Linked DNA regions of Homo sapiens. The protein of the gene in region 1 interacts with the protein of each later gene in a pairwise test. Each region holds a gene or a part of one and is shown in the gene's direction. Other genes may lie near its edges.

Evidence for each region.
Region 2: the proteins of TRAP1 (region 1) and PINK1 interact in binary tests that used the Homo sapiens proteins (3 or more experiments, as listed by UniProt).
Region 3: the proteins of TRAP1 (region 1) and HSD17B10 interact in binary tests that used the Homo sapiens proteins (3 or more experiments, as listed by UniProt).

What each region holds. Positions count from the first base shown.
Region 1 is NC_000016.10:3,707,521-3,714,680, reverse strand, and holds part of TRAP1 (heat shock protein 75 kDa, mitochondrial isoform 1 precursor), read left to right. Parts: intron 1-4,278; exon of another isoform or gene 4,279-4,296; intron 4,297-7,160.
Region 2 is NC_000001.11:20,636,458-20,643,457, forward strand, and holds part of PINK1 (serine/threonine-protein kinase PINK1, mitochondrial precursor), read left to right. Parts: intron 1-1,384; coding exon 1,385-1,672; intron 1,673-3,434; coding exon 3,435-3,535; intron 3,536-6,199; exon of another isoform or gene 6,200-6,661; intron 6,662-7,000. UniProt on the Homo sapiens protein: Serine/threonine-protein kinase which acts as a sensor of mitochondrial damage and protects against mitochondrial dysfunction during cellular stress.
Region 3 is NC_000023.11:53,431,283-53,438,401, reverse strand, and holds the start of HSD17B10 (3-hydroxyacyl-CoA dehydrogenase type-2), read left to right. Parts: upstream 1-4,031; 5' UTR 4,032-4,056; coding exon 4,057-4,083; intron 4,084-4,515; coding exon 4,516-4,680; intron 4,681-5,990; coding exon 5,991-6,155; intron 6,156-6,285; coding exon 6,286-6,414; intron 6,415-6,495; coding exon 6,496-6,604; intron 6,605-6,807; coding exon 6,808-6,998; 3' UTR 6,999-7,119. UniProt on the Homo sapiens protein: Mitochondrial dehydrogenase involved in pathways of fatty acid, branched-chain amino acid and steroid metabolism. Acts as (S)-3-hydroxyacyl-CoA dehydrogenase in mitochondrial fatty acid beta-oxidation, a major degradation pathway of fatty acids.

The sequences.
Region 1 (7,160 bases):
AATATCTTATTTGATTTTTTTTGAGCCGGAGTCTTGCTCTGTTGCCCAGGCTGGAGTGCAGTGGTGCAACCTCAGCTCACCACACCCTCCGCCTCCTGGGTTCGAGTGATTCTCCTGACTTCGCCTCCCACGTAGCTGGGACTACAGGCGCATGCCACCACACCCAGCTAGGTTTTGTATTTTTAATAGAGATGGGGTTTCACTATGCTGGCCAGGGTGGTCTCGAACTCCTGACCTCATGATCCACTAGCCTTGGCCTCCCAAAATGCTGGGATTACAGGCGTGAGCCACTGCGCCTGGCCTACCCTCAGAATATTTCTGTGAGGGGTGGGCTAGGATATCCGCTTGTGGACTTTATATTTGTCATTTTTGCCCATAACAGTTTATTCAGCAAATACATTTCCAATGCCCCCGAGTCGTCAAAGAAAATGTGACCCTGCTGTCTGGAGTCATAGGTGGCTGCTGAGCAGTGTACCAGGGCCATCTTGGTGGCCTGGACAGCACATTAGAGAAACAAGAGCTGCTTGCCCCAGGGTAAGTTTCACAGATGAGGAGCGATTTGGGCCGAGTGTCCAAGGCTGTTTTCACTGGAGGGGAGGGAGGAACGTTCCATGTCTGGAAAGCTGCAGGTGCAAGGGTAAGGAGATAGCTCTGAATAATTGGTTTGATGAAAGACTTGCGGGAGTGTGCAGGAGTGATGGTGAATGAGGCTAGCAGTTGTGTCTTTTCTGTCAGATATAAGCTTGTGCGTAGGAGCCTCATCCTGCATTCCTCAGGACAGTCACAGAGCCAGCCCTGGGCCTGGTGTGTGGGGAGCCCAGCCACGTGGCCCACCATGAGAGCTTTTCGTCAGAGCTCCAACTGTCAGAAGTGTCAGATGTGCCAGTAGAAGGATGAGGCCGCCTCCTAAAGGAGAGGGAAGACCTGGAAAGATCAACAGCAGACGCAGTCTCCCAAAGCAAACGTGATTCTGTGGTCAGGCAGGTACGGTGACGGGTTGGTCATTTTGCATGACGAGGTGACTGCCACAATCACCAAGGGTGCCGAGTCCAGTCTCCTGGTCATGCCAGATGCTCTTGTTTTCGTGAAATTGCCAGAACATGACTGAGGCAACCACGATAGGACTGGTTGGTGCAGGCGTTAAGATCTTGGGCCTTTTTGTTCTCTGTAAGCTGGAGCCTTTGCTGGAACTTCCTGTCTTGGAAATCAGAGTTGTGAGAGTAGGTCCCCTGCCAGCACCAGGAAGGTCGGGAGAGCTGGTTTCCTCACTTTGCTCAGGGCTCAAGTACTAGCTAGTTTGTTTCATCTTCCAAAAAGAGCCTCACCTGGACCCCGCTCCTGTAGGTGGTGCCTGCCTGCTGCGCCCTCCCCTTCAGTACTTCGTTTTGTTGACGGGTTTTGCCTCCTCCCTCTGCTCTCCCTTTGTTTGGAGCCTGTGCTGTTTGATTTCCGTGTCTTGTGTGCTGCACCCTTCAGGAGAATTCAGGTGAATTTCTGGTGCTCTCCGGCTGTTCTTTTCAGAGTGGAGGGGAGTAGTACTTGCTGGTCAGTTGCGACTCTGTCTGTGAAACAGCTCTTTGTGTTGCTGAGATGACGCTAGAGGTGTAGCGTCCATGACATGTTTGTCGTCTGATTAAGCTGTGGTGCTGGCACTTAGACGGCAGAGGAAGGTGTGGCCCAGCTGTCCAAGGCCACCAGGAGGACCTTCAGCTTAGTTAGGACCAAGGGAACTGAGTTATCTGAGTGCCTGAAAAAGAACACATCAGGCCGGGCGCGGTGGCTCTCGTCTGTAATCCCAGCACTTTGGGAGGCCGAGGTGGGTGGATCACTTGAGTTCAGGAATTTGAGACCAACCTGGCCAACATGGCGAAACCCCGTCTCTACTAAAAATACAAAGAAATTAGCCAGGGTGGTGGCAGGCGCCTGTAATCCCAGATACTTGGGAGGCTGAGGCACGAGAATTGCTTGAACCTGGGAGGTGGAGGTTGGAGGTTGCAGTGAGCCAAGATTGTGCCACTGCACTCCCTCCTGGGCGACAGTGCAAGACTCTGTCTTGGAAACAAACACATCAATCCGAATGTAAGAGATTAGCAAAGCGTTTATTGGTTACTGGGTGAGTAGTTGGCCTAAGCTAAGACAAAAGAGGAATCTCCAAGTATTTTGCTACCCCTTGGCAGGAAGAGAGGGAATGCAGCTTGCGGGGTGGGGATGGGGGTGTCAGGTTGATAAGAAAACTGTGGGAAAATAAACATTTACTCCTGCCCCCCATGTCAGTAAATACCATGTGACAAAGGTGAGTTCCATGAAAGAGGCTGTTACTGAGGCCTGTGATACTTGCTTGTCTCAAAATGCTGACATATCTTTTTTTTTTTTTTTTTTTTTTTTTTTTTTTTTTGAGACAGATTCTTTCTGTCGCCAGGCTGAAGTGCAGTGGCATGACCTCAGCTCACTGCAACTTCCGCCTCCTGAATTCAGGCAGTTCTCCTGCCTCAGCCTCCTGAGTAGCTGGGACTACAGGTGCATGCCACCATGGCCAGCCAATTTTTGTATTTTTAGTAGAGACGAGGTTTCACCGTGTTGGGCAAGATGGTCTCAATCTTTTGACCTTTTGATCTGCCTGCTTTGGCCTCCCAAAGTGCTGGGATTACAGACATGAGCTACCACGTCGGGCCTGACAAAGAATCTTGATAGCGATTGAAAATGTATCCATTCATACTCAAATGAAGTAAAAAGTGCTTTTGGGTTCAAAGCCAGAGAATGTTCATGGATGGCGTTTTTGGTGCCTCAAGTGTAGCCAGCTAGAACTTTTCTTACCACCGTCCTGCTTAGTCCTACTGAAGACCTGCCTTCTACTAGGAAGCTGCTCTTAGTCCACAAAGTGGCTTCCCTGTAGTTCCACAGCATTTAACAAAATAGATTTCAGGGAGTTTATTTGTGGTGTGGCTGGTTATTTCTGCTAAAACCACTAGGAATTACCATAAAAGCTGTAGCTTGGAGAAACAGTATCTACTTGCGGGAGTATTACTGCCACCTGTGTTTTTTTTGTTTTTGTTTTGGTTTTTGTTTTTTTTTTGTTTTTTTCAAGATGGAGTCTTGCTCTGTTTCCCAGGCTGGAGTGCAGTGGCACGAACTCGGCTCACTGCAATCTCCACCTCCCGGGTTCAAGCAGTTCTCCTGCCTCAGCCTCCCAAGTAGCTGGGGCTACAGGCATGCACTACCGTGCCCGGCTAATTTTTGTATTTTTAGTTGAGGTAGAGTTTCACCATGTTGGCCAGGCTGGTCTTGAACTTCTGACCTTGTGATCTGCCTGCCTCGGCCTCCCAAAGTGCTGGGATTACAGGTGTGCGCCACCGTTCCCAGCCCTGCCATTGGCTTTTTAACCAGGTGAATTCCTGTAGATTGGGTAGATTGAAAGGACATGTAGCTGAATCATTGGTTTTAAAAGGAATGGCTCAGTTACTTCATAGCCATATAATTAAGAAATGTGGCTAGAAGGTAAAAAATTGGCCAGGCCTGGTAGCTCATGCTTGTAATCCCAGCACTTTGGGGGCTGCGGCGGGAGGATCCTGTGAGTTTAGGAGTTTGAGACCAGCCTGGGCAACCTAGAGAGACCCCCATCTCTACCAAAAAACCCTTTTTTTTTTTTTTCCAATTAGCTGGGTGTGCCTGTGGTCCCAGCTACCCAAGAGGCTGAAGTGGGAGGCTCCCTTAAGCCTTGAGAAGTCGAGGCTGCAGTGAGCTGTGATCACGCCACTGCACTACAGTCTGGGTGACAGAGTGACAGTGTCTCAAAAAAAAAAATATATATATATATATATATATACACACACACATATAAAAGAAATTAATTTTGAGATAGCTAAATTAAATGCCATATTAAGAGCAGGAGGCTATTCAGCAATGCTGCTGAGAAGAAGACAGAAGGACGTGGGTCCTTCTAATGTAACTATGTGTGTCGGGTTAGTGATATGCACCTCGAAGGAGAAATTAAGACAGCACATTGCCATGTTAGTTCACACTTGCCAGTATTTCAGCATTTGTCAGGCAATGGAATGTTCAAGCGAATTTTCCACGAGGCTGACTTTAAAACATTTCATTTTAACCATTATGATGAGAAGTCTTTCTAGAACACTCCATCATTTGATGGCCCATGACTGAACCTCTCTTGGATGTTTTCAGGGTCATTATTACGGGTGTTAATGTTTGGTCTTCTGTTTTAATATGTAGGCTCCCGTAGGGCCATTGAAATGTGAAGAATCCTTCGTCTATGAAGTGTCCCCACATCAAAACTGCATTGTGAGTGTTTATATTTTTGGCCTCTCTTACTGTGGCCTTAACTTGCAGGTCTGTCTGGAGCCCTGTTCTCTCCTTTCCTAGTTTGCAGATGTGGCTGGGAAACTTGTTAGCATCAAATTGTTAGAATGAGATGGATTTCATATGGGGCCAGTAGTCTTCCATGAGCAAAGCTCAGGGTGAGGGCTTCAGGCCCATATTTTGACTATTCCGAGGTGCCCTTTCGCTTTTTGTTCTTTTTCTTTATGTTCAAGGAGTTATGTTTCCTGATGAATGAAGTATCAGTATATCATAGTAGAGAACGATTAGACCAGGTTCTGGAACACAGGAAACCTCAAGAAACAGTGAGTGTTGAGAATGCCAGAGCTAAGAACTCAGACATTTGTGAGGGAATACAGGTCTTTCTGTTCAGAATGTTCATGTACTTAAGAATCTTCTCGCCAGGCGCGGTGGCTCACGCCTGTAATCCCAGCACTTTGGCAGGCTGAGGCGGGTGGATCACCTGAGGTTAGGAGTTTGAGACCAGCCTGACCAACATGGAGAAACCCTGTCTCTACGAAAAATACAAAACTAGCCGGGCGTGGTGGCGCATGCCTGTAATCCCAGCTACTTAGGAGGCTGAGGCAGGAGAATCGCTTGAATCTGGGAGGTGGAGGTTGTGGTGTGCCGAGATGGCGCCACTGCACTCCAGCCTGGCAACAAGAGCGAAAACTCCGTCTCACACACACACACAAAAAAAAGGGAAACAAAGGTAAACTGGGAAGGAACCGTGTGTAATCTTCCGTACCTTGCATTTTCCACTTATATTCTGGGGTTTGTTTCCTGTCGCCACAGAGCTCTGGTATTCCATAGCGAGGATGTTTTGTAATTTATGTAACCCTCTCATGGCGGACATTTAGGTTGTTGCTGAGTTTCCCCAAGATAACAGACGGCATTGCCAACAGTTTCTCACACCTTCACCAGTGCTAGAATGACAGTATTTAAAACATCTGTCAATCTGGTAGTGAAAATGCTATCTCGTTTTAAAGTGCATTTCCTTAGTTATGAGTGTGGTAAAACATCTTTTACTAGGACGTAAAGCCATTGATGTTTCTTGTTTTTGTGAATGGCCATTTTTCTCTTGAACCAATGGCCTTTTTCTTTTTTTTTTTTTTTTTTTTGAGATGGAGTTTTGCACTTGGTGCCCAGGCTGGAGTGCAGTGGCGTGATCTTGGCTCACCGTAACCTCTGCGCTAGCCCTTTTAAATAACTTTTAAAAATTGAGACAGTGTCGGGCCAGGCACGGTGGCTCACGCCTGTAATCCCAGCACTGTGGGAGGCCGAGGCGGGCGGATCATGAGGTCAGGAGATCGAGACCATCCTGGCTAACACGGTGAAACCCCATCTCTACTAAAAATACAAAAAATTATCTGGGCATGGTGGCGGGCGCCTGTAGTCCCAGCTACTTGGGAAGCTGAGGCAGGAGAATGCCGTGAACCCAGGAAGCGGAGCTTGCAGTGAGCCGCGATCGCACCACTGCACTCCAGCCTCGGCAACAGAGCAAAACTCCATCTCAAAAAAAAAAAAAAAATTGAGACAGAGTCTGACTCTGTTGCCCAGGCTGGAGTGCAGTGGCGCCATCTCACCTTACTGTAACCTCCGCCTCCCGAGGTTAAGCAGTCCTCTCGCCTCAGCCTCACAAGTAGCCGGGATTACAGGCACGCGCCACCATGCCCGGCTCATTTATTTTTATTTATTTATTTATTTATTTTGAGATGGAGTCTCGCTCCGTCGCCCAGGCTGGAGTGCAGTGGTACAATCTTGGCTCACTGCAACCTCCGTCTCCCAGGTTGAAGCATTTCTCCTGCCTCAGCCTCCCTAGTAGCTGGGACTACAGGCACCCGTCACCACGCCCGGCTAATTTTTGTATTTTTAGTAGAGATGGAATTTCACCATGTTGATCAGGCTGGTCTTGAACTCCTGACCTCATGATCCATCCGCCTCAGCCTCCCAAAGTGTTGGCATTACAGGTGTGAGCCACTGCTCCTGGCTTTCTGGCTAATTTTTGTTTTTTTTTGTATTTTTAGTAGAGACAGGGTTTTGCCATGTTGGCCAGGCTAGTCTCAAACTCTTGACCTCGGGATCTGCCCGCCCCCACCTCCCAAAGTGCTGTGATTACAGGCGTGAGCCACGGCACTAAATTTTATTTTAGAGGCAGGGTCTTGCTTTGTCATCCGGGCTGGAGTGCAGTTGTGCGATCCTGGCTCGCTGCAGGCCTGACCTCCTGGACTCAAGTGATACTCCTGCCTCATCCTCCCAAGTGGCTGTGACCTCTTCCTCCCAAGGAGCATGTGCCACCATGCCTGGCTAATTAAAAAACATTTTTTTTAGAGATGGGGTCCCACTATATTGCCCCGGCTTGTCTTGAACTCCTGGTCTCAAGTGATCCTCCTACTTCTGCCTGCCAAAGTACTGGGATTACACGCAGGAGCCGTCGTGCCTGGCCCCCAGTTTTTTTCTTAATGTGTTTGTCTTTTTTTTTTTTTTTTTTGAGTTAGAGTCTCGCTCTGTCTGTTGCCCAGGCTGGAGTGCAGTGGCACGATCTTGGCTCACTGCAGCCTTCGCTTCCCGAGTGCAAGCAAGTCTCCTGCCTCAGCCTCTGGAGTAGCTGGGATTACAGATGCCCGCTGCGACTCCCAGCTAATTTTTGTATTTTTGGTAGAGACGGGGTTTCACCATGTTGGCCAGGCTGGTCTCGAACTCCTGACCTCAGGCGATCCACCCACCTCAGCCTCCCAAAGTGCTGGGATTACAGGCATGAGCCACCTCACCCGGGTGTTTGTCTTTTGACTTAAATTTTTATGTGGTCCTTATATTTATGGCCTTTT
Region 2 (7,000 bases), on another chromosome or scaffold:
CAGCCTCCTGAGTAGCTGGGATTACATGTGCACACCACCACACCCGGCTAATTTTTTGTATTTTTTAGTAGAGACGGGGTTTCACTATGTTGGCCAGGCTGGTCTTGAACTCCTGACTTCATGATCCGCCTCCCTCGGCCTCCCAAAGTGCTGGGATTACAGGCATGAGCCACCACGCCCGGCCTGGACTTTCATTTTTTTAAAAGGTTCAAAGTTATAGTGCAAGGTTAAGTTGCTTACAGATAGCAGGTGCTTTAGGAACCCTCTAGAAGGAAAGTTGCCATGGGCTGGGTCATCAGGGCTGGTCACAGAGGAAGGAGGAGCTTGAGTTGGGCTTGATGGCTGAGCAGGGATGAGCCAGACAGAGCAATACTATAGAAACAGGGGCTGGAAGGATGCTGTGAGCAGCTTTCAGAGGGAGGCGTCCAAAGGATGAGTGCAGGCAGCGTGCAGACCAGCCTGGCAGCAGCCAGAACACAGATAACCTCCTGGGCAGTCTGATGGACAGCCGAGTGACACATGAAAGCAACATATTTTGATGTGGCTCAGAGCAGGGAAGGCACGGCACTGAGAGTGGGGTAGTCTAGAGATGGTGCCTGGTAGGCTATGGCCAAGGGGCATATGCAGAGCTGTGCCTGGCACCCAGGGGTGACTAACCTTGGAAAGGAAGAGCTCAGCAGATCAGACCATTTGAGAGGGAAAGCGGAGCCTGGGTGACTGGAAGAGTGACGTCACCGCTGCCTGAAGCAGGGGAAGACCCACCAGATTTTTGTCACATGGCCTCTTTCCCAGTGCAGCACTGCCCCCAGCACCTGCACCTCCATCTATTTCTGTCTGAACTCTTGTACTCTTGCTACCTTTCTGGACAGAGTAGCCTCATCGGGGCCCTAAGAGGCAGAGAGAGAAAGACAGTACTGAATCCCTCTGCTCTGGGGATGCGCCTGATGTCACCCACTTGCCTGAGAGACCCTCTGAGATCACTGTGGATCACACACTCCTGCTAGTTGCCCAGGAGCCGTCAGCCAAGGTCTTTGCAGAGCGAGCTGTCTCCATAATCAGACACCTCCAGAACTCTGCTGGAGAGTGAAGGCAGCAAGGAGAGGTGCACTGGCTGCGGGACGTGGGGTTTCTGACCTCTCAGATCATTGAGTATTGTGATCCCAGTGAAGCAACAGAGTTTGAGAAAAATCATTCTGAATAATGAGAAAGAAGATGGCCTGGACCCAGGCTGAGCAGTAGAACCTGGTTGGGTTGTGTTTTTCTGGTTTATTGATCTGGTCGACGTGGACCACGCCTTGCTGCACCTCTCTCTGCCTCCCCTGTTTCCCTTTTCTTGGGCCTTCCTAGGCTCCCTGGCTCACGGTGCATTCTTTTCTCATCACAGGCAATTTTTACCCAGAAAAGCAAGCCGGGGCCTGACCCGTTGGACACGAGACGCTTGCAGGGCTTTCGGCTGGAGGAGTATCTGATAGGGCAGTCCATTGGTAAGGGCTGCAGTGCTGCTGTGTATGAAGCCACCATGCCTACATTGCCCCAGAACCTGGAGGTGACAAAGAGCACCGGGTTGCTTCCAGGGAGAGGCCCAGGTACCAGTGCACCAGGAGAAGGGCAGGAGCGAGCTCCGGGGGCCCCTGCCTTCCCCTTGGCCATCAAGATGATGTGGAACATCTCGGTAAGCACCAGGCCTTTCATCTTTAAAGGAGATGTTCTCAAAATGCCCATCTTAGTGGGCCTGGTGAGGATTTTTTCCAGGAAGTAGGTAGGAAAAGACAGATTATCCACAGGAAAGGTGCCTGTATAGTCAGGTTACCTCCCCCTGTTACACAGAAGTCTAAACCAGAATGTTTGAAATTGTATTCTGCCCACAGATCACCCAGAGATCAGGTTCAAAGGTAGATTTTGGCCAGGCCTGGTGGACCATGCCTGTAATCCCAGCACTTTGGGAGGCCAATCACTTGAGCTCAGGAGTTTGAGACCAGCCTGGGCAACATGATGAAACCCCATCTCTATGAAAAATACAAAAATTAGCCGGGTGTGACAGCTTGCACCTGTATGTAGTCTTAGCTACTTGGGTGGCTGGTGGCTGAAGTGGGAGGATCACTTGAGTGCAAGAGGCAGAGGCTGCAGTGATCCAAGATTGTGGCACTGCACTCCAGCCTGGGTAACAGAGTAAGACCCTGTCTCAAAACAAAACAAACAAACAAAAAAAACCCAAAGGTAGATTCTGATTCAGCAGGTCAGGGATGGGGCCTAAGATTGTGCCTTCCCAATAAGCTCCCACGTGATACCAATGCCACTGCTCTGTCAACCACACTTTGAGTAACAAGTGCCTAAACCACTGATTTCTACCTTGATTGGTTAGTTCACCATCCCCTCCTTCCTGCAACCTGCCTCACTGGAGAGGGGGAACTGGATCTCTTTCCTTTAAGCTCACTCTGCAAGCCCACCTCCAGCTCAGAGGCTTGCATGTCAACTCCCTACTCTCAACTCTTGGAAGGACTCAAGACTTTGGGAAATTGAAGAGTATTTTTCCCCCACGAAAACAATTTCTGTCCACTTAATTTATTTACCTTGCCATTGCTAGGTAGGTTTTAAAAATGTATTAAGACCCGATGCTCTGTCTCCTGCCCATCCCTGGGCCCATCCATTCAAGGCCGCAGTGGGAAGTGGCCACAGCCGTTCATGGTGGGCCCTAGAGGATGCAGTTTCTTGTTCTGATTTGGGGAATGAAGGTTATTAGACTGTTGCACTCCAAGCTGGGTTAATAGCTAACAAGTAGCCAAATCCTTTGCCTGTGAAACATCCAGTCTTAGCATCAAAACATGCCCTGGTTGGGGCATGACAGCTGTTGCATTCACAGCAGCTACAAGATTGTTGATTCTTACCAGATCTTCTTGATACAGGTTTCATATGTCCTGAGAGCCCTTCCCAATACAATGAGGACAATAAGGTGCTTTCCCCACTCTTTGGTTTTTGTCTGTTTGTCGTGGGGGATGGAGGAAGGCTGTTCTGTGATTCAGTACAACTTCACCCAGGGTGGAGCATGTCAGGCTCTGGCCTGGCTGCTGAAGGGAGCCTGCAGAATGAGTTAGTGATCCAGTGGTCAATTTTGAACTGGTGGGGACCAGAGGCACCGATGGCAGGAAGCAGCACCCCATATCCTGATCACCTTGGCATCTCCTCCAGCCCTGGCATCTAGGCTGCAAGAGTTTGAGGAGTGTGAAGAATCCTCTGAGTTGGCATGGATGGTACCTCTGTCTGCCTCCCAGGAGTAACTAGTCTCAGCCTGCCAGTTAAGACAGGTCATCTTATCTCGAAGGTCAGAGCCAATTCTAGGCAGTAGCTGCCCTGCTCCAGGTTACAGGCAGGGCTTACAAGGAACTTACCATTCTGCTCCGGCCTGTGTAACCCTGGGTTCCTTGTGGGTGTTCCAGGCAGGTTCCTCCAGCGAAGCCATCTTGAACACAATGAGCCAGGAGCTGGTCCCAGCGAGCCGAGTGGCCTTGGCTGGGGAGTATGGAGCAGTCACTTACAGGTAAGTGCCCTCTGCCTGCCAGACTGACTGGGACTTCTTTGAGAGCAACTTCATCCATCACTTATGTCCTCAGCACCTGGTACAGTGTCTGATATGACAGTAGATAATAAAGGCTTAATGTTGGTGATGGATTTTCAGTTAGTGGATAATTTCACTTGGGAAAGATTGCAGGTAATCTGACCCCAAATGATGATGCACTTGCGTAATTCACATTGGAGCAGGGGAGAGGAGGCCCCCCAAAAATGCCCAGTTCACAGTGTTGCATGATTGACTGGGGTTCTCAGATTCCTCCTAAGAAATGCACGGGTAGAGCGCCACCTATCGGAATAAACTGAACTCTGTCCCCACCAGAGGGAACACTCATTTCACTAATAGTTATGTGCACTGATGGTGCCAAGAGATTTTAAAAAAAACAAAAAGTGGTCTGTTGGCCCAGAGGTCTCAGTGTGGCAGCAGAGAGCCCAGGGTGTAAGTGCTAGAATCGAGTATGCTTGGGCTGAGGGAGCCCAGGGGAGGCGTGTGCTGCAGAGGAGGGGCTGCTCAGAAAGCCTTCTCAAAGGGACAGTTTGTGCCACCTTGTGAAGGATGAATTGGCATTACTTGGGCAGAGGAGTAGGGAAGTGGCATTCCCAGCAGAGGGAAGAGCAAGTGAACAGCAGCTACGCTTTCAGCTCAGAAAAGCCCATGTCCACCACCAGCCTCACCACAGGTGGTGAGGACTGACGCGCAGGCTATGACAGAGGAGATACTTGTGCCCACCTCAATATTTACAGCCTGGCTCATGCCTGTAATCCCAGCACTTTGGGAGGCTGAGGTAGGCAGATCACTTGAGCCCAGGAGTTCAAGAGCAGCCTGGGCAACATGGTGAAACCCCGCCTTTACAAAAAATAAATTTTAGCCGGGCATGGGGGCAAATGCCTGTGATCCCAGCTACTCAGGAGGCTGAGGCGGGAGGATCATTTGAGTCCAGGGAGGTTGAGGCTGCAGTGAGCCAAGATCATGCCACTGCACTCCAGCCTGGGCGACCCTGGAGTGAGACCCTGTCTCTCATTTGTAGACCCACCAAGAAGAGGTGGGTCTGCTGCATTTTTGGTGATTTACTGGAGGGCTGGTTTATAGATCTTCATTCTGTCAGAAGCAGGGAGGCAAAAGTATGAAATTAAGGGAGTGGTTGTGGAAAACCCCTTCCATGGTTTGGAGGTTTCCAATGTGACTGGGAGTCCCTGCAGGCCGGTGGAGGTAGCTGCTCAAGTGGCTGCTGCTTCTCCTGAGGCCTTTTTGGAGAAAGTGGACACCTGAATGTCAGCTGCTTTGGGGCTAACATGATCCTTGATGCCTCCTTTTGTGGCATGAGTGGCAGCCGGCCGACGTGGTGCTGTCCTGCTGCCGGAGCACCATGATGTCTGCTGCTGAGACCTCCCATCTGACATAGTCCCTGTCCCTCTTCAGGGACTTTGTTCCTTTAGCAGTTCTCACTGTCTGGCCTCAAATAACACGTCTTTTTCTGTTGGTTCCTTTTTGCTCCAGCTGTACTGTAAACACTCTTTGTTTACTGCATACCCTCAGTAAATACCTGTTGAATGACCGGATAGATGTGGCAGCAGGTACATTACCTCAACTTCTGGTACACCTTGGGAGAAGCTTTCCCAAGAACACCCTGGGTTCATTTCCTCCTAGCCTCTGCTCTCCTGGGGCCCAGAGATTGAAGGCGCTTAACCTGCTCATCTCACCACGTCTCCCGCCTTATCTCTCACCCTTCTCATCAGCACCCTACACTCCACCACGCTGGCTTCATAGCTCCTTCCCCGAATGTGCCAGGCTTCTCTGTGACCATCTCTTGAGCGTACAGCTGGCTATACCTGGGCTGCCCTCCTCCCACATTTCAGGTCTCAGTTCAGACACCCGCAACCCCACCATGTATCTCCCCAGTACAGCCATACTCCTCTGCCCCTGAGCTCCCATGACACCTGCTGGGGCCCTGACAGCCTGGGGCTGTGATCATGACTTGCCCAGGGGCCCGAGGGTGGAAACGATGCTCTGGCTCCTTTGATTGCATAGAACAGGGGCCACTCAGGTTGACTCAAGAGCAGGAGCAGCGCGTGGGCACACGTGGACTGCAGCCACACAGCCTGGGGACCATGCAGTGCTGGGAGAGGCCGGTGCCCTGCTCTCTCCCCAGCACCGTCTAGGCTCTGCCCCATTCGCTTCCCTCCACCATTGTTATGCAGCAAAGGGGGCTCTAGCCTGATGTGCTAGAAGCAGTCACACTGGATTTTTGAGAAAAGCCAAGCTTTCTATTGTGAGTCGACTCATATGGAGACAGGAGTTGAATTCAACCCTGTCTCCCTGTGCTAGCTTTAAGGCGGTAATTTTATTAGAGGAGGTTTAAGGGGTGGATTCTAAGATTAGCAGGTGATTGATGGAAGGAAAGGAGAAGTCTGGACAGTCCTTGGACATGCACAGTTATCTGTTCATGCCAACTCATGGGTCCCCTGTGCAGATTTGGGAGGAGTGAGTATGAAACGTGCAGTGGCAATTCAGGCTTTGACATCAGCAAACTTGTTCTGTGCAAGCTGCAATTGGCCTTATTGGTTCCAACCAATTTCAGCCAGTTCTTTTATCTCATAAGCAGAGGGAGTTTCAGCCTTTCAGAAAGTGGTTTCTGCAAACTCAAATTTTCTTTTATTTTTCTGAGACAGGGTCTTACTCTGTTGCCCAGGCTGGAGAGCAGTGGCGTGATCTTGGCTCACTGCAGCCTCAACCTCCCTGGGCTCAAGTGATCCTCCCACCTCAGCCTCCCAAGTAGCTGGGTCTGCAGGCACATGCCACCATGCCCAGCTAATTTTTGTAGTTTTTGTAGAGACAGAGTTTCTCCATGTTGCCCGGGCTGGCCTCGAACTCCTGGGCTCAAGCAATTGCCTGCCTCAGCCTCCCAAATTGCTGGGATTACAGGAGTGAGCCACGGGAATTTCCATCAGTTACTGATTCTTGAACTTGTAGGAACGTGGTTCCACTGTCCACATGCTGTTCTTTCCTCGCATCTCCTGTTCCTGCTTCCCTTTGGCCTGCTCACCTCTGGCTCCTCATGGCCCCAGTGAAGTATCGTGGCTTCCTCTCCACTGCAGACTGGCAGATTTCTTCACTCACACTCCCAAAAAGAGAATCTACTTCCCTCCCTTCCCTTCGTCCAACCATCTGGGTCTCGAGTGTCACTGTAGGTTCACTGCCGTTGGGGCAGGTGACTCCTTGGGCCAGTCAGCTTTGGCTGAAGGGCAGGGCTGGCACACAGCTGGCAGAGCCACCCCATCCAAAATCCAGCCACTGTGCCTCAGCAGGGCTGTGGTTTGGGGGTCGGGGGGCGCTCCCCACAGGATAAGGAGCAGCCAGGGCAGGCAGATGACACTACCACTACTAGCTGCATCTGGATCTATTCACTTATTCAACAAAGGTTTATTACACCCATAT
Region 3 (7,119 bases), on another chromosome or scaffold:
GTCCTTCAGCGTTTAAACCAATCATTCAGATTGTGCCCCAGCTCACTCAGAAATGACAGGCTCTGTATAATCATCACTTGGGGTTCTTCTTTTCCCCTCACATAGATGATGATATAATTGGGATTCTTTATATTTGTCAATGTCACCTCAGAGCCAGCTGGAACCAGTGCAGCTCTGTCTTTGCAGAGGTAACTGCAGGTGCCCACAAGAGTTAAATGGGTTATCTTGTGGTTTTTATCTCCCAGGAGTGAAGACCACCCAGGAGTAAAGACCACCTTTATTCTTCTCTGTTTCCTGGCAGGGCTAATTTGACACAATGCTGCGTGTTGCTTGTTTTGGTGTCCTTGCTGGGCCCCTTTGCGCACCTCTGGCCCTCAGGTTCCCATGAGACATGCATCCAAACTGTTGAGTATGTGCGTGTAAAGGTTGACATCACTTTATTCCCTATTTTTTTGTGTGTGTGGAGACAGGGTCTTGCTATGTTGCCCAGGCTGGTCTCAAACTCCTGGGCTCAAGACATCCTGCTGCTTCAGCCTCCCAAAATGTTAGGATTACAGGCGTGAACCACTGCACTCAGCCCCTATTCCCTATTTTCTAATGGTTTTGAGACAGAGGTGCGTGCAATCAAGAGAGAGGATGCTCAGTAGCAGAAATCCCCAAGAAAGTGGGAGGGGCTGGGACACAAAACCCAGTGGAAGGGTGAGCCCTAAACAGGACATCTCTGAGACCCAAGGAAAGGATGGTGTGGGTGGGTAGAGACAATTTTGGAGGTGGCAAGAGAGAAGTATTCACTAATGGCTTCCGTTTGCTCTAAAAACAGTTCTTTTAATTGTGCAGCCCTCAGAACCAGAAGAAGTTCAGAGAGCTCCCTCTAAACACAGTTCTTAACCCACAATCCAAAAGACCCCTGAGGAGTCAGTGAATAGAATTCAAAGAGCCCATGGACTTGGATAGAGGGGAAATTGCATCATTATTTTCACTATTACTAACAGAAATATAGCATATCCTTCCAGGGGATGTGGGTAACAAACTGCAGTAATATTAGCACCTGTGACTTTGACACTAAGAGAGATCAGATTTTCATTATTACGGTTGTTGCATATCTCTCAAAATAACATCACTATTTCAAAAATCATGGTTGTCACTAGACCTGTTGATAGAGCTTGCTATTTAATGTGTTAATAAAGAAGCACATATATTACTACATTACAGGTGCGTTTCCTTTTATTTTGAAAATTGTACCCCAATATAATTGGTTTCTTTTGTAATCCTACTTATAGGACGCATGCATTATTCTGGGAAGGGGTTCCTAAGACTTCACCAGACTCCCATAGGTGTCCGTAGCATAGAAAAGGATGAGAAACACTGCTCTGAAGAGTAACCATAGCTAACACTTATATAGCTCTTGCTAAAGGCCAAGCACTGTTCCAAGTCCTTTTTAAATACATAGTTGTTAACTCATTTATTCCTAACAACCCTACGAATAGTCATTTGTTTATACTCATTTTACAGAAGAGGAAACTGAGGCACATCAGTTAAGTAACTTGTCCAGGGTCATTCGGCTAGTAAATAATAGAGCTGAGGCTGGGCGCGATGGCTCATGCCTGTAATCCCAACACTTTGGGAGGCTGAGGCAGGGCGGATCACCTGAGGTCAGGAGTTCAACACCAGACTGGCCAACATGGTAAAATCCCATCTCTACTAAAAATACAAAAATTAGCCAGGCGTGGTGGCCCATGCCTGTAATTTCAGCTACTCTGGAAGCTGAGGCAGGAGAATTGCTTGCACCCAGGAAGCGGAGGTTGCAGTGAGCCAAGATGCGCCACTGCACTCCAGCCTGGGCAGCGGGAGACTCCATCTCAAAAAAAAAAAAAAAAGCGGTAGAGGGGAAGAGATCCAAGACAACTCGAGAACATGGTCAGAGAGAGAAAAGATGGTGTGTAGATGCTGGGGAGGGCAGGAGGTTATTCCAGGGAATGACAAGTGCAATAAGGTGGCCTGGACAGGTGGTTAAAGTAGAGAGGAGGTGAAGGTTCCCGGAGTTGGGCAGGTGAAAGAATCATGAAACTGTGCCTGGAAATTCTTCCAAGATTAATTCATTAATTCATTTATTTCACACATTTGTTTTAAGTGTCTTGTACACGCCAAGCAGTGTTCTCGGCATTAGGTGAACCAGCTGGACAAGCCCCTGGTGCCATGGGGCTTACCTTCCAGCAGGGGGAGAACTACACAAACAAGGCCAGGTTAGCGGAGCATGCAGGCTCACAAGCCTGTAGGCACAATCCTGCAATGCCAAAACTTCTGAAAAGCATAAGGTTGTTTTTTCATACTTTGGAGCCCAAACTCAATAGATGACAAAACCTGACCTGAAGTAGTGTGAGGCTATTTATAGTCTTTATTCACACTTGGTGTGAATTTTCATACCTTTCACTTCAGAAATATTAATATTTCATTACGATGCTCCAGGCTTTTCTCAATAGTTATATAATATAGACTATACAAAAAGTTATGTTTGACTAGTTTTTTTAAAGAGTTATGTAATATAAATTACATGTCTTCCTTTCTCAAATTGAAAAAAACTCTGAATTCCACAGCACATCTGGCCCTAAGGTTGGAAAATGGATTACGGACATGCAAGTGCTATGAAGATAATTCAAATATGCAATGGGATAGTGTCTAGGTGGCTACAGTTTGAATATTTAGGGAGGACCCCTCTGGGAAGGTGATATTTAAGCTTAGTTCTGAATGAAAAAAAATAAAAGCAGTCATGCAAAGATCAGGGGAGAGCATTCCAAGCAGAGGGAGCAGCTAATGCAAAGATGAACACAAAGGAGGCCACTGTGGCTACAGCATATTGGGCCGGATGAAGAGTGCTATAAATTGATGGAAGCACTTCATGTAGATAGGAAAATTGTGAGACCGGTGTGCTAAATCCTTTGGTAAATACGGTGTAGTGATTATGAGTGTGGTGGCTGTCAACAACTAGAAGGCCTGGAGGGGAATCTTCCTGGGTGAGAAAGCAAGTGGGGGGAGATATTTCAGATAGAGAAAACATAAAGCAGTTCTGAGGCTGAAATGGTGGGCTAAGATTTATGGCCTGAAGACCTTGGTTTGAGGAAAAGTATAGAAGGAAGACAGATTAGATATCTGGGCTCAAGACTCTAATGACATAGCTTCTGGAAGCTGCCTGAAAGATGTTCTAGGATGACAAAGACCTGGGTCTTAAATAATAGTCTCTGGTTGAAGTCCAATCTGCAGTGTGTGATCTGGGCTTTTGGACTTAAATTAGACAAAGATAGAGGAGAGTAGCAAAGCCTGAACTGATGAAAGATGTTTTTGCCTCTTTAGGTTTGTGCTTCTCAGCAGCTGTCCTAGAATGTCTGTCTCCAAGCATCTCTCTTAGCGGCTTTCCACATTCATCTCTCTGTGATCCTACCTGGCATCTCTCTTCCTATCTCGGCCTCAACATATTTCTCTTTACATGGCTCTCTCTCTCTCTAACTCAGACTCCTCATCTTTGGATCTCCTTGTCTGAGTGTCCCAGAATCTGGTTCCGTCCATTCGTCTGTGTCTGTACTGTAATTCTCTTTCTCCACCTGGACTGTGCCCTCCTGGAAGGCATGAATCTTTTATTATTCCGCTGGGTATCCCAGGTGCCCCGCACACCGTCTAGCATATAGGAGTCTCAAATACATTCATACTTGAATTAAGACTTTTTCAGAGGAGAAAGGCATCCGTTCTCAATATCCACCCCTCTTCCCCCACGCGGAGCAGGCCACTTGCCAAAAGGCCAGCTAGAGAGTAGGGCGAGGGGTGTTGTGGTATTGTACTTCTGCTATTGGTCTCTTTCCCCAGTTGAAATAACTCTGGGGATACCTTAGCAGGCGGAATCCGCCCTCTGGCCAAAGGACTAGCGTACCAGGCCACGCCCCCACGTCTCATGCGGCAGCGGCAGACGCCCCGGCCCGTCGCATCCGCCCCTTCCGCCGCTTCGCCTCGGCCAATCAACGAGCGCCCGCGCCCCCATCCCCATCCCGTGGAGTGGCCGGCGACAAGATGGCAGCAGCGTGTCGGAGCGTGAAGGTAGAAGGTTCTTTGCCTCTGTTGCTTGCCTTCCTTTACGGGCCGGGACAGCGCGGCCGTGGAACTAGGAGAAAGAGATCGGTTTCGAGGGAAAGGGTCATGCTTATGTAGGCCTGGTATTGTGGCCGTTGGGCTCAAGAGGTGAAAGTCAGCACTCCGCGGCGCATCTGTCTGTCTGTCTGTCTGTCTATCTATCTATCTATCAATCATCTATCTATCTATCGTCACGGGACGGGCTGTCTGGGGATGAGATCCCTTCTGCCCCCGAGGTCCCAACGCTGAGGAGAAGCAGCACACCTAGTTTACCCGCAGGGGTGACCACGACCTCTCCCCTCCCCCCTTCTCCTCAGAAGCCTGGAGAACAGGCAGGCGACAGCGTGGGGATGGTCTGGGCAATGTAACAGCTGACCCTGACCATGTCCCTTTTGACAGGGCCTGGTGGCGGTAATAACCGGAGGAGCCTCGGGCCTGGGCCTGGCCACGGCGGAGCGACTTGTGGGGCAGGGAGCCTCTGCTGTGCTTCTGGACCTGCCCAACTCGGGTGGGGAGGCCCAAGCCAAGAAGTTAGGAAACAACTGCGTTTTCGCCCCAGCCGACGTAAGTGGGGTCACCTCTCCTCTCCCAGGGTGTGCATGAGGTCACCAACACCGGCCTGGGAACCTGTGGGGGTCCCTCCCATAAGGGTCTCCTCTATGGGGGCGGTAGACCCATCTCCTTGTCTCTTTTGGCCTGAGCCTTCAAGCACTGTGGGACCACCTGTGATAAGGATTCTCTAAAGCTGGGATTCACAACAATGAGGATGGGGATTGGACGTAACAATCTCCTGGAGGAGTTATGTATGGTTTGAAAATGCATTTTGTGCCTTGTAATTTTATATTTACAAAGTCAAAAAACTTGTTTTCATGAAACAAACTACAGAAAGTGAAACTTGATGAAATCATCTTAGCAGGTAAGGATACAAAAAAGCTAGTTTATCTTCCTATCAATAATTCTCACAAGAGGGTTATTTTTTATTTTTATTTTTGAGATGGAGTCTCGCTCTGTTGCCCAGGCTGGAGTGCAGTGGCACAATCTCAGCTCCTTGCAACCTCCATCTTCTGGGTTCAAGCGATTTTCCTGCCTCAACCTCCCAAGTAGCTGGGATTACAGGCACCTGCCACCACGCCCAGCTAATTTTTTTTTTTGTATTTTTAGAAGAGATGGGGTTTCACCATGTTGGCCGGGCTGGTCTTGAACTCCTGATCTCACGTGATCCGCCCGCCTCGGCCTCCCAAAGTGCTGGGATTACAGGTGTGAGCCACTGCACCCAGCCTCACAACAGGGTTGCATTAGTGCTCTGATCCACAGCAATTAAGAATCTTCAGGAGCATGTGAATTTATCAAGAAGGTATTGATTTGAAAAATGTTTTTGCAACACTGCTCTATATTACCTAATATTTTCACCTTTGACCTACTCTCTCAATTTTTTTTTTTGGGACAGAGTCTCACTGTTGCCCAGGCTGCAGTGCAATGGCACGATCTCAGCTCACTGCAACCTCTGCCTCCCGGGTTCAAGCGATTCTTCTGCCTCAGCCTTCCAAGTAGCTGGGATTACAGGCATGTGTCACTATGCCGGCTAATTTTGTATTTTTAGTAGAGACGGGTTTTCACCACGTTGGCCAGGCTGGTCTCAAACTCCTGATCTTAAGTGATCCACCAGCCTCGGCCTCCCAAAGTGCTGAGATTACAGGCATGAGCCACCGCACCCAGCCTATCTCTCAAGTTTTACAACCTTTCTCTTGGCCTCTCCCTTCTCACAAATCTCTTCTCACCCAAGGACTGGGCATGCCCTGCCCTGCCCTCCCTCAGGTTTAGTGGGAAGAGTGGGTGCTGGGAGATGAATACCTTCTCCACTTCTCTCTTTGAAGGTGACCTCTGAGAAGGATGTGCAAACAGCTCTGGCTCTAGCAAAAGGAAAGTTTGGCCGTGTGGATGTAGCTGTCAACTGTGCAGGCATCGCGGTGGCTAGCAAGACGTACAACTTAAAGAAGGGCCAGACCCATACCTTGGAAGACTTCCAGCGAGTTCTTGATGTAAGGCCTTGGAAGTTCTCCAGGGATAGTGGTAGTAAGAAGTATCTGGCTGTGGAGGACCCCAAAGTTTTTAGGGGACAAAGGCTTCTTCTGCCTCAGGTCCTATAGCATGTCTCCATCTGTCCTACAGGTGAATCTCATGGGCACCTTCAATGTGATCCGCCTGGTGGCTGGTGAGATGGGCCAGAATGAACCAGACCAGGGAGGCCAACGTGGGGTCATCATCAACACTGCCAGTGTGGCTGCCTTCGAGGGTCAGGTGTGTGGGCAGGGGTAAGACTTATGCCTCCTAAGTGACTTGTTGGGGCCCTCCCACCTATGACTTCTACTCTTTCTCCAGGTTGGACAAGCTGCATACTCTGCTTCCAAGGGGGGAATAGTGGGCATGACACTGCCCATTGCTCGGGATCTGGCTCCCATAGGTATCCGGGTGATGACCATTGCCCCAGGTAGACATATCCCCTCTCTCCATCATACCTGGGATTGGGTGGGATCCATGGACAGTTGAGAGGGGAAGGTATCCACCACCTAAGCAGCAGCAGCCTTTTATCTTTGGGCCCCAGAGAAGCACCAAGAAGTAGGGCTAAAGTAAGGAAGAACCAGGTAATCATGAAAGCAAGGGTGAGTCTCTGAATTTGGCTATATTGTTTAGGTCTGTTTGGCACCCCACTGCTGACCAGCCTCCCAGAGAAAGTGTGCAACTTCTTGGCCAGCCAAGTGCCCTTCCCTAGCCGACTGGGTGACCCTGCTGAGTATGCTCACCTCGTACAGGCCATCATCGAGAACCCATTCCTCAATGGAGAGGTCATCCGGCTGGATGGGGCCATTCGTATGCAGCCTTGAAGGGAGAAGGCAGAGAAAACACACGCTCCTCTGCCCTTCCTTTCCCTGGGGTACTACTCTCCAGCTTGGGAGGAAGCCCAGTAGCCATTTTGTAACTGCCTACCAGTCGCCCTCTGTGCCT